2 separate regions of the Homo sapiens genome follow, and region 1 is linked to region 2. The links come from fine-mapping of genetic effects on gene expression. Tissue or cell type: lymphoblastoid cells. Region 2 holds a variant in brackets; the other region holds the start of a gene. All regions are shown on one strand. Distances are from middle to middle.

Region 1 (5,152 bases), 65 kb after region 2:
CCTCAGCCTCCTGAGTAGCTGGGACTATAGGTGTGCGCCACCATGTCTAGCTAATTTTTATATTTTTAGGAGAAACGAGGTTTCACCATCTTGGCCAGGATGGTCTCGATCTCTTGATCTCCTGATCTGCCCGCCTCAGCCTTCCAAAGTGCTGGGATTACAGGCGCGAGCCACTGCGCCCGGCCTACACACATTTCTTAAATGAGAGTTCCATATCCAAACCTCTTCCTTTTTCTTTTCTACTCATTACTCCAATGTGAGCTGGTCCATTCTCCCTTGTAGCTTTAATTACTTATCTATATGCAAACTTCTAACTCCAGCCTGCTCTCTCTGAACTCCAGACTAAAATGCACCTCCACCTGAATATCCCATAGGAACCTCTAACAAATGCTCAAAACTCAACTAATATCTTTATATTTCACCCCAATAAAAACCAGCTCCTCCTCATCTCAATCAACGGATTCACTATTACCTCAGTCATGCTAGCCAGAAACTGAGGAATCAATCAGCTAAGAGTTCCAAATCTAACTCCCAACATCCAAACTCTTATCAAGTCATATCAATTTTATCTCTTAAATATTCCTTGAATCCATGTCTTTCTGTAACTCCAAATGCTTAATTCAGACTCTCTTCACTTCTCTACTGGACTTTGTTTTTTTCTATTATACAACTGGCTTTTCTACTACCTGTAATGTTTCCCCTCCCAGGTCCATTCTCTACACTGGGGCTGGAGTTATCTTTCTAAAATACAAATCTGACGCCACCACCACTCTAGCTAAAATTCTTCAATGACTGCCCTATATCAAGAAAAATTCTAAACTCTGAATATGGTGCCAAGTACTTTAAGATCTGGCCTCACCCACTAATTGCAAGTATTCTGGGATCCAGTCATTCAGAACTACCTAGCGTTTCCCAAATACAAAATACTGATTCTTCAATCTATCCTTTGCTTATTTTGTGCCATCCATTTGTCCTAGAATGACTTTCCTCATCATCACTCCAGTGAAAGCTTATTCAACTATTTTAACACAAGTTAAAAGTCAAATCACACTGAAGGCCTCCCCTGACTTCCTTAGACAGAGTCAGGATCTTTCTACTAAATGACAGAGAATGGTCAGTGCTTGAGATCAGGACCAGACCCACCTGGGCTGAAATCCCAGGTTCACACGTTACCAGCTATGATTTTGAGCAAGGCCTCTAAAGCCTGTTTCCTCATCTCTAAAAATCAGTAACTACTTCACCAACTGTTTTGAGGATTAAGTAAGGAGTTGCATGCAAAATACTCCTCACAGCACCTGACATATTCAATAAATGTTACTGTTATGTGATTATTTCCTCTGGGCTCCTAGAGCAACTTGCACTTATCTCTACCACACTACTGTGATGACAAGACTGCCCATGCAGGATACAGACTATCTTTTTTCATCTCTTTATTCTCACCACCTGGCATAATGCCTGGCACATAGGTTCCTAACACATTTTGAATGAATAAATAAAATACTTCAAACCTTATGTTGTATCACATAAGGCCTCAATTTTGTTTTCTACCTGTCTTACTAAACCTACTTTCCATCTCCTCCTTGTACAAAATTGCAACCTCAAGTAAAATTTACACAGGTCAACTTCATTTTAATTAAGAGAAAGTTTTATAGGATTTGTGGTCTTTTTGTTTTTAAACACACACACACACAAACTCACAATAATATCAACAATTCTCCAACTTACTCCATAAAGCAGCAAATTTCTAGGATGGTTATCTACCTATTAAAAAATTTTAAAGGGTCGTCAAGGAAGGTTTCGTAAATCTGTGTCAGCTTCCTTTACCAGCAAGTCTTTGAGTCAACTCTAAGGACTCAAGTGTACTCCTGAACATAAAAAATATATAAAGAATTAACTAAATAATTAAAACATGGTATTTTTCCTTCCGAAAACATGCTGAGAAATTCTGAATAACACTGGAATAATCAAAGAATTATTGCTGCCTACTGCTAAAAAAGTCTGTTTTTAAAAGTTACTAGTAATTTAAAGCTGAACTAATCAAAATATGTGTAGGCAGTGTTCAGGCTGGCAAGGGGGGGGTGGGGTGGAGCACTCATTTCACAACCTTGAACCTCAAGAAATAAAATTCAAAAATGCAAAAAGTTAAAAATGCCAGATACCACCATATAATCGCAATGACATCTTTTTATCTATTTCCACACTTAACCTTTAAACATTACTGCCCTTTGAGTAATTACCAATTGATGGGTTTAATATGCAAACACCTCTGAGCTACTTTAAAACAAACATGACTAACCCAGAAATAAACGTATCCAGGAAAGGAGAAAAACCTGTTAAAACACGGTTTCTCAGGTCTCACATCCAATGTGTGACATACATACGGTTCTGCACCGAAAGGCAGCAACCTGCGAGGGTCAGAGGCGCCGAAGACCCGAGGCCCTGCAGCTTGGGCGGCTGCTCATCCCTGAGACTGTGCAGGGCGGTGGCCCAGCCGGGGTGGGGCTGAGCGCTGCAACTGGGGCGGGCCCAGCTACAGGGCGGGAAGCCCGAGGCTCACCTCCACTTCCCTTTCCCAACGCACAGAGCCCAGGTCCGCGACCACTCAACAGCCCCCTCAAGACAAAGAGAGATTTTTTTTTCTGTCCCGGTCCGCTCAAAGTTTATCGGTCTTTCCCGGCGGTCGGGGCCGCCGGGCTTTGTAGTTCGCCAGTCCGAGCTACCCCACCAAGACCGCGAGCCCGAGGAGTCGCTGAACTACAATTCCCATGATGCACCGCGAGCCTGGCGCTCCCGCGCCCCTCCCCGTCCCCGCACGGGAGCCAGCGCCCGAGGAACCCCGCAGCCCACTGCCCTGGCGTCTCCGGCAGTGGGAGGCCGAGAGGGGCTGTTGGCTAGAGCCCTCCACCACCTGCTGTCTCGCCCTCGCCCCTTTCTCTCGGATTCATTACCCAGAAGGCGCAGGTCCGGGCACATTCAGCGATGCGGTCCAGATGGGGTGCGGGTGGGGCGCAGGCCGCCGCCGCCGCCGCCGCCGAGTCCGTTAGCTCGCGACGTGCGTGAAAAGGCGGCGGCGGCGTAGTGTTGCCATGGCAGCCGCGGCCGCGCGGTGGGCGCAGCGCGGGAGGGAGCGCGGGGGCTGTGAGTCCGCTCTGGGGCGGAGCTTGGGACTCCCGCCCAGGTTGCCGGGGGGAGGGAGGTGCAGCGGCGCGGGGTGGGAGAGCAGGGAGACAGTGACATTGAGGAGGACGTGTGGCCGACTGAGCTCTGGTCGTGCTTGATGAGCCTGCCTCCACTGCGTCCAGCCCCCGTGGCAGGGCACCTTCGTGCCTGCTGCTTTCGGAGGTGATGCCAGTGGCGTCGAAGGAGGGGGCACCCGGGGCGTCGCAGCGCCTTTCCCGCCGCCTGTCCAGGCGTCCGCCGCTGGGTCTGCCCCCAAGGGATGTGTGGATCCTACGCCACCTCTGTGTTTTTCTCCAGTCAAACCGAATTGAAGTCTTTCGCACCCCCTTTCTCCATTCTCTGGGGAGGGGGATAGAAGGGAATCCTTCGATAAGATGGAATGCATATGGCCTTTAGGATTATTCAGGAGGTTTTAGAATTTGCAAATGGCATTGCTTTCGACTGAATTTGGATTTATGCTGTTTCTTGGCAATCGTTTGTGGACTCTAGGATAAACAGGTTAAGAGCGTGGGCTTCTAAAACGAATTCTTAGTTCACGTCCTGCCCCTGTGCTTGGTAGCTGATGACCAGAGGCGCCTTTCTCACCTCTTAACGTTTTGATCTGCAAAAATGGAGATATCCATCTTGCAACTCTTGTAAGAAATACACGCATTAATACTGATGAAGCTCTATAAAACAAAGCTTAGCATTTAACAATAGCTATTAAATATTAATTATTTAATCAATAGTGATAAAAGTCAGAATAGTGGTTGGCTGTCGGGGAGGAGTTTGAGAGAATTTTTTGTAGTGATGAAAAAATTCTATAGCTAAGAGTTTCGGTTACAGAAGTATATGCACTTGTCAAAACTCTTGGAATGGGACATTTAAGATTTGTACATTTCACTGCATGTAAATTTACCTCAAAAGAGAACATAAAAATGTGTTGTTATTATTATTAGAGCTATAGACTCTAATGGAAACTACAGAGATATTCTAGGCCCAATCTCTAGATTTTATAGATGGGAAAACTGAGGCCCAGAAATTTAATAGAAAAAAAGAGGAAGGGGAGTGAATTCGTGACCTTGTCATTTTCTAGTAATGAATATCTCCTGAAAAATTATGGTTGAAAATAACAAAAATGGCTCCTGTAATCCAGCTGAGTCATCCTACCACAGAGATTTTCTTGAACTTGACTGAGTCCCTTATCCACCTTGTGGTGTTCCCCACGGCCAATGTCCTCTCAAGGATTGCACCGTCACTTCTGGCTCTCAGTTCTTGCTTTTCCTGAACACTTAGACCTCTCCACATATCACCTCTTACAACTCTCCTCTCTCTACTCCTGCTGACACATAATTTCGAAATCAGCCCCTTTTCTTTGGTTGTTTCTATAGCCAACTCTTTAGAAGGTTTGGAGCAGATAAGTGGTTTTAAATTAAGGATGCAAAAAACCTAAAATTAGAAATCCCTGCTCTTAAAAGTCCTTCAGTTCCTCCCATGATATTTTTATCCACCTACCACCTACCCCCATTTTTTCATCATAACCTGTAACCTCCCACTATTGTACCATCTTTCTGGTCCCATCTCTCCCCTCCTCTCCTCTCTTTATACAATACTTTTATTTCCATCTCCTAATCTGTGCCTTCATAGCTACCTGCCATTCCTAAACTGTTTACCAAAGTTTTTTCCTACACAAAGTAACTTCCCAAGAGGAACTCTGGAGCCAGCTATTAAAATAATATTTTTTCACATATGTATCCTCATATTCTATTTGATTCAGTCCACAGTGTAGCTGCTCAATAAATATTAAGCAGCTTACGTACATGACCTGTTGATATAGTTTGGCTGTGTCCCCACCCACCTCTCACTTTATTGTAATAATTCCCACCTGTCAAGGGCAGGGCCAGGTGGGGATAATTGAATCATGGGCGCGGTTTCACCCGTACTGTTCTTATGGTAGTGAATAAGTCTCATGAGATCTGATGGCTTTATAAAT
Region 2 (5,152 bases):
TTGAATTTTAAATTTTCTAAAGGTCTATTATGGTTGTCACAACCTATTTGGACTTCAATTTTCTAGTATGCCAAATAGTGGGGATTTGAGATGATCTCAAAGACTCATTCCAGTTCTGAAATTCTGGAATTTACATTTTGAGACCAATTTTAGAAGCTTGAAAAATTTCTGAGGTCTCCTTATTTTCATGTATTCTTTAAAATACATTTATCAGGCCTGAAACAGTGGTTTATGCTTGTAATCCCAGCACTTCGGGAGACCAAGGTGGGAGGTTCACTTGAGGCCAGGAGTTCAAGACCAACCTGGCCAACATGGCAAAACCCAGCCTCTACCAAAAATACAAAAATTAGCTGGGCATGGTGGCACGCATCTGTAATTGCAGCTACTCAGGAGGCTGAGGCACAAGAATTGCTTGAACCCAGGAGGCAGAGGTTGCAGTGAGCCAAGATCATGCCACTGCACACCAGCCTGGGCAACAGAGTGAGACTCAGTCTCAAAAAATAAATAAAATACATTTATTGTCCCATTTCAGTAAATAATCTATTCTCACAAATCCCTAAAAAATTCAGACATAACCTTTTAAAAAAACGTAATAGTTCTATTCAAGAATTTTATTCTACTGTTGCAGAAAAAAATTATTTGGTCAGGAAAAAGATTCTTTAGAAATATATCTTTATTTTCTTAATCCAGTTTGCCAATAAATACTACAAAAGCACAGCAAGGACAAAATAAATTGATAAAGTCAGATATTTTGTAATGATACAGAAGTGATTTTTTTTTTTTTTTTTTTGAGATGGAGTCTCACTCTGTTGCCAGGCTGGAGTGCAGTTGCGCGATCTTGGCTCATTGCAAACTCCAACTCGCGGGTTCAAGCAATTCTCCTGCCTCAGCCTCCCGAGTAGCTGGGATTACAGGCATGCACCACCACGCCCAGCTAATTTTTGTATTTTTCGTAAAGATGAGGTTTCACCATGTTGGGCAGGATGGTCTCGATCTCCTGGCCTCGTGATCCACCCTCCTCAGCCTCCCAAAGTGCTGGGATTACAGGTGTAAGCCACGGTACCCAGCCAAGAAGTAGTTTTTTAAAACACAGCTAAAGACCTCTTTTTAGAAAAAACATTTGTTTTCAAGTCAGTGACAAGTAAAACAAAATAATTAACCATCAGTGAGAAATATTCCAACTTTTGAAAACTGTTTGATCACACCTTTCTTCTATAAGACCATATATTATTTCTGCTTAATCTGCTTAACTTTTTATTTATAGAACCATACATCCAGAAAATTCTTAAAACTAATCTCTAGCTCAGCATCCCTGAGTGAAGTGACCTAAAGACTATATAGTTTCAACACTCCAAGCCCATCTCTCCTGCTATGCAGATGTAACACATCACAACTACAAATTCAAATCCAGGTGTTTTGGGTGTACATAAACTTCTCCCAACCTTTTCAAAATGGGTTAAATACATCAAAAACTACAGCAATGCTGCCTTTCATTCCAGTGCCAAGTAGCATTCTTATATCAAAACCAATTTAATAAATTCTCACCTTCCATGGCCTTCTAATCCCTTTGAAAAAGTCAGGCATCCACATTGGAAGAACAACAGCTTCCCTTAGCAACTTCTTAGCTTCTTCCAGATCTGCTATGTCATCCCTTTGAAAGAACAGCAAACTTTCATAATGTTTACTCAGGGATCTTTGATTTATGGTCAAAACTAATTCTTTTAATTTTTTTTTACTTATGAAATTATTCTCATAGTAAGAACATTATTCTAATTCTTACTGCATAAAAAGATCAGTGAAAACATTAGTTATTAATGAGGACATGTCATTGAATTAACAACTTGTCAGTTACACATCAACTTCAAATTAACATGTAAAATGTCCTTGGTTACATTCGACAGAACTGTCTCGTCAATTCTATACTTTCATATTATAGATGTGGTCATAATCAGATTAATGAATAACAAGAGAAAACTCACACACCAAGACAACCTATAATTTGTGTTCTCCTCTACTTTAATTCAATAATTTGAAAGACTCTAACCAATGAATGCTAGGATTCCTGGATACAATGTCTCTTTCAAGGGCTTCCACCAGATCCTTATCATAACCAGCACCATCAAATTTTGGCATTTCACCATCACTTGCACCATCTTGCATATTCTTCCTTCCCTGGGGATAGGTATAAAAAAAAAGTACTAGTCAGTAATGGATAATTTAGTTAACATCATTACGCTTTGAAAACATTATAATGCCATCACTTTCTAAATAATTTTTATTATTTTAAGGTAGTATTTTCTGATTACTCAAATGCCATTCTCCTCTATTTAATTCATCAGAAATACATGAACTGGTCAACTTTATTAAAAACTTCAAATCTACATTCTTGCAGGAACAGTTGCATGCAGGTAAGACTAAACTGATCCTTGCTAGATCCCAAAAGACTGGGAAAGCCTACCTTTGAACTGGTAGACGCAGAGGATTTCCACCACTACTAGAAAACATTTTGAATATTAATGTGGAAGGATCTTTTTAAATAGTATTAAGACCATTAAAGCAATATGCTTTACCCCAAATTCTTCATTTAATAATATAGTTGTTTTAAAAGAAATTTTATGCTATGGTTTCTATGGGGTTCTGCCAAGATTCACACAGCTTTGACGAGCTTTAAATGAAATTCACTTATTTGCCAGAGACAGTCCAACTATGGAAATACTTCAGCAAGCACAGCCAAGTGCCTCCCCAGAGCTTTAGCCCCAGTTACTGCCTAGAGTAAAAAC[A/G]AAACAAGAAAATGGTCAAAATGAGTCAATCTCCTAAACTTCAACCGGAAAAGAGACAAGAGAACAAGACAAACTTCTCCAATCCCACTTCTGAGATAGTCAAAAGGCTCAATCATAAGTGCTGGAGGAAACTAAATGGCTCCCTTGGACAGATGCTCTGGTTCCTTCAAGCCACTAGGTAAGTGACCAAACAGTATTCTGGTACTTCACCCAAAAAAATAAATTATTTCTGGGCAGTATGGCGGTAGCATTAAATTTATTAGTAAATTTTCCCGAAGATTCTTGCATTCCAGATGACAGATATCAATACTGACAATATTAAAAGGAGTAAATTTTTGGCACCTACACAAGAAACATAACATCAACAAACTTAAGCTTAGGCTAGAGTCAAATTTTATAGTACAGATAGGCCAAGGCTACCAAGTCATATTCAAACAAATCACTAGGAACATTCTGTAATCATTTAAAAACTATTCTAGAAACGTATCAACGAAAGAATACAACAGAAACTGACATATCTGGAGCTTGAGCCTTCATATGGCACTGTAATTTACACTTATCAAGTTAAAATTAAAATTTCATTTTAATATGAATGTCCAAGTGGCTGGAAAGAACTTAATAAACACTACCTCAGGAGAAAGAAAAAGCTGCATGCCTATCTGAAAGTAATAGGAGTATCATAGGATTTTAAAAACAGTAAATATTTGGGCATCTTCTACGTGCAATACATGCTATTGTGCATTAGGTTTTAGAGCAGTGAATGAAAATACATTATCTGCCCTCATCAAGCATCTAGTCTAGTGGGGGAAACGAGTAACAAGTAAATAAAGCAAAAACACACATAAACTGTGAAGTGCTGTGAAAAAACCTGAGTAGCCAGTATAATAAAATGTATTGCGCAGAAGAAAGAGGTTGAAGATATGGGCAGAGGTGAGTTTGGATTTCTTCTGGCTCCTATAGAGGACGGGGTAGAGGAGGAGAATCAAAGAACTAAAAGCCTCTCACTACACTGAAGAAGAAGTGTGTGTATAGGCCAGTTAAATGACCTGCCCGAGAACCCAAAGTTTCTCAGTGGTACACATGAGACTTGAATACCGATCGAGGACTACAAAAAAGATTCTGGAAACGTTTTCAAATCAAAATGGTGAGGTTATAAAAAACAGACATAGGAAAACTAAAATTAATTTGGTTATGCCAGGAAATCAGTAAAATGGGTGACAGTTATTCTTCATAAAAAATACTTAAATTAGAATACAGACATCAAATATAAACAGCTAGATTAAATGCAATACCTAAAGGAAACTATTAGTTAAAGGAAATAAAGCTAACCTCTCCAAGATATTACTAAGTGTACATAAATACTACTAACTGCAATGTCACTGAAATGATCTTAGAATTCTTTCCTTAGATTTTCATATGAGTTGACTAAGGTCAACATTAGCAAGAATTTGATTTTTAGCATGAAGGTTGATATACTTTTTTTCTCATGAAAGCAAAATATTTTAGCTTCTTTTTACTAACATCAAAATTTCCCATATCAAGAAAGCTTTGTTACTCATCTTTCATTAGTGTTGGATAATCTTCTATTTGAGGAAAATTAGGCTCAAAGTGACTAACCAAATATTACAGAGCCAATTAATGATATAGTTTGCCCTAAAATGCAAATGTTTCTTACATTTTACTATGCAACCTCTCACACTGGCAGATTAAGTAAAACATGATCAGTTACTAGCTCTGGGTCTTGCATTTTAAGAGAAATACTGATAAATTACACCCAGGGAAGAATAATCAAGATGATAAAGGGTTCAAAACCCATGTCATATGGAGGAAGACCAAGGAAACTAGAGACATTTAAGCTGAAGAAGTAAATTCTAATGGGGCAATACAACCAACAGGCCTACTAGGTATTAAGCCAAAAAAAAAAAAAAAAAAAAAAAAAGCAAGGGCCAGTAACAAAAGAGATAGATTTCAGATCAGCAAAAGAAAGAATTTTCTAACAATAGATTCTGTCCAACAGACGAATCAACTCATTAGGTAGTAAGCTACCACGCATCGGAAATTACTGGCCAATTAGTAATAAAAATCACTGGGTCATAGTCACACGGATGTCTAAGCTTAATTATAGCTGATCTTTTTCCTGTAAAGCCACTGCCTCTCACTTGCCTAATTTATTCATCTGTTGCCTGATTTCAATGGCCCAAGGAAAGTGCAAAATTTCTTGGAAATCTCATTATTTTTCTTTTTTTTAAATTATACTTTAAGTTCTAGGATACATGTGCAGAACGTGCAGGTTTGTTCCATAGGTATACACGTGCCATGGTCATTTGCTGCACCCATCAACCCATCATCTACATTAGGTATTTCTCCTCATG

What was found. PIP is the estimated chance that this variant, and not a neighbour inherited with it, causes the effect.
Region 1: KATNAL1 starts here. The variant in region 2 is fine-mapped to the expression of KATNAL1 in lymphoblastoid cells (GTEx, PIP 0.95).

What each region holds. Positions count from the first base shown.
Region 1 is chr13:30,304,383-30,309,534 of GRCh38, forward strand. It overlaps KATNAL1 (katanin catalytic subunit A1 like 1), which reads right to left and starts at 3,169. Exons shown (of 11, transcript NM_032116.5): 1 at 2,949-3,169. RefSeq lists silencers at 2,804-2,913, 2,944-3,173.
Region 2 is chr13:30,238,915-30,244,066 of GRCh38, forward strand. KATNAL1 (katanin catalytic subunit A1 like 1) reads right to left here. Exons shown (of 11, transcript NM_032116.5): 5 at 2,045-2,172; 6 at 1,546-1,651. It overlaps LOC102723381 (a long non-coding RNA gene), which reads left to right. Exons shown (of 4, transcript XR_007063741.1): 3 at 2,340-2,408; 4 at 2,694-3,003. Among named protein-coding and RNA genes, the nearest start is that of KATNAL1, 66 kb to the right of the region's middle. The variant A/G (reference allele first, on the strand shown) is at 2,781.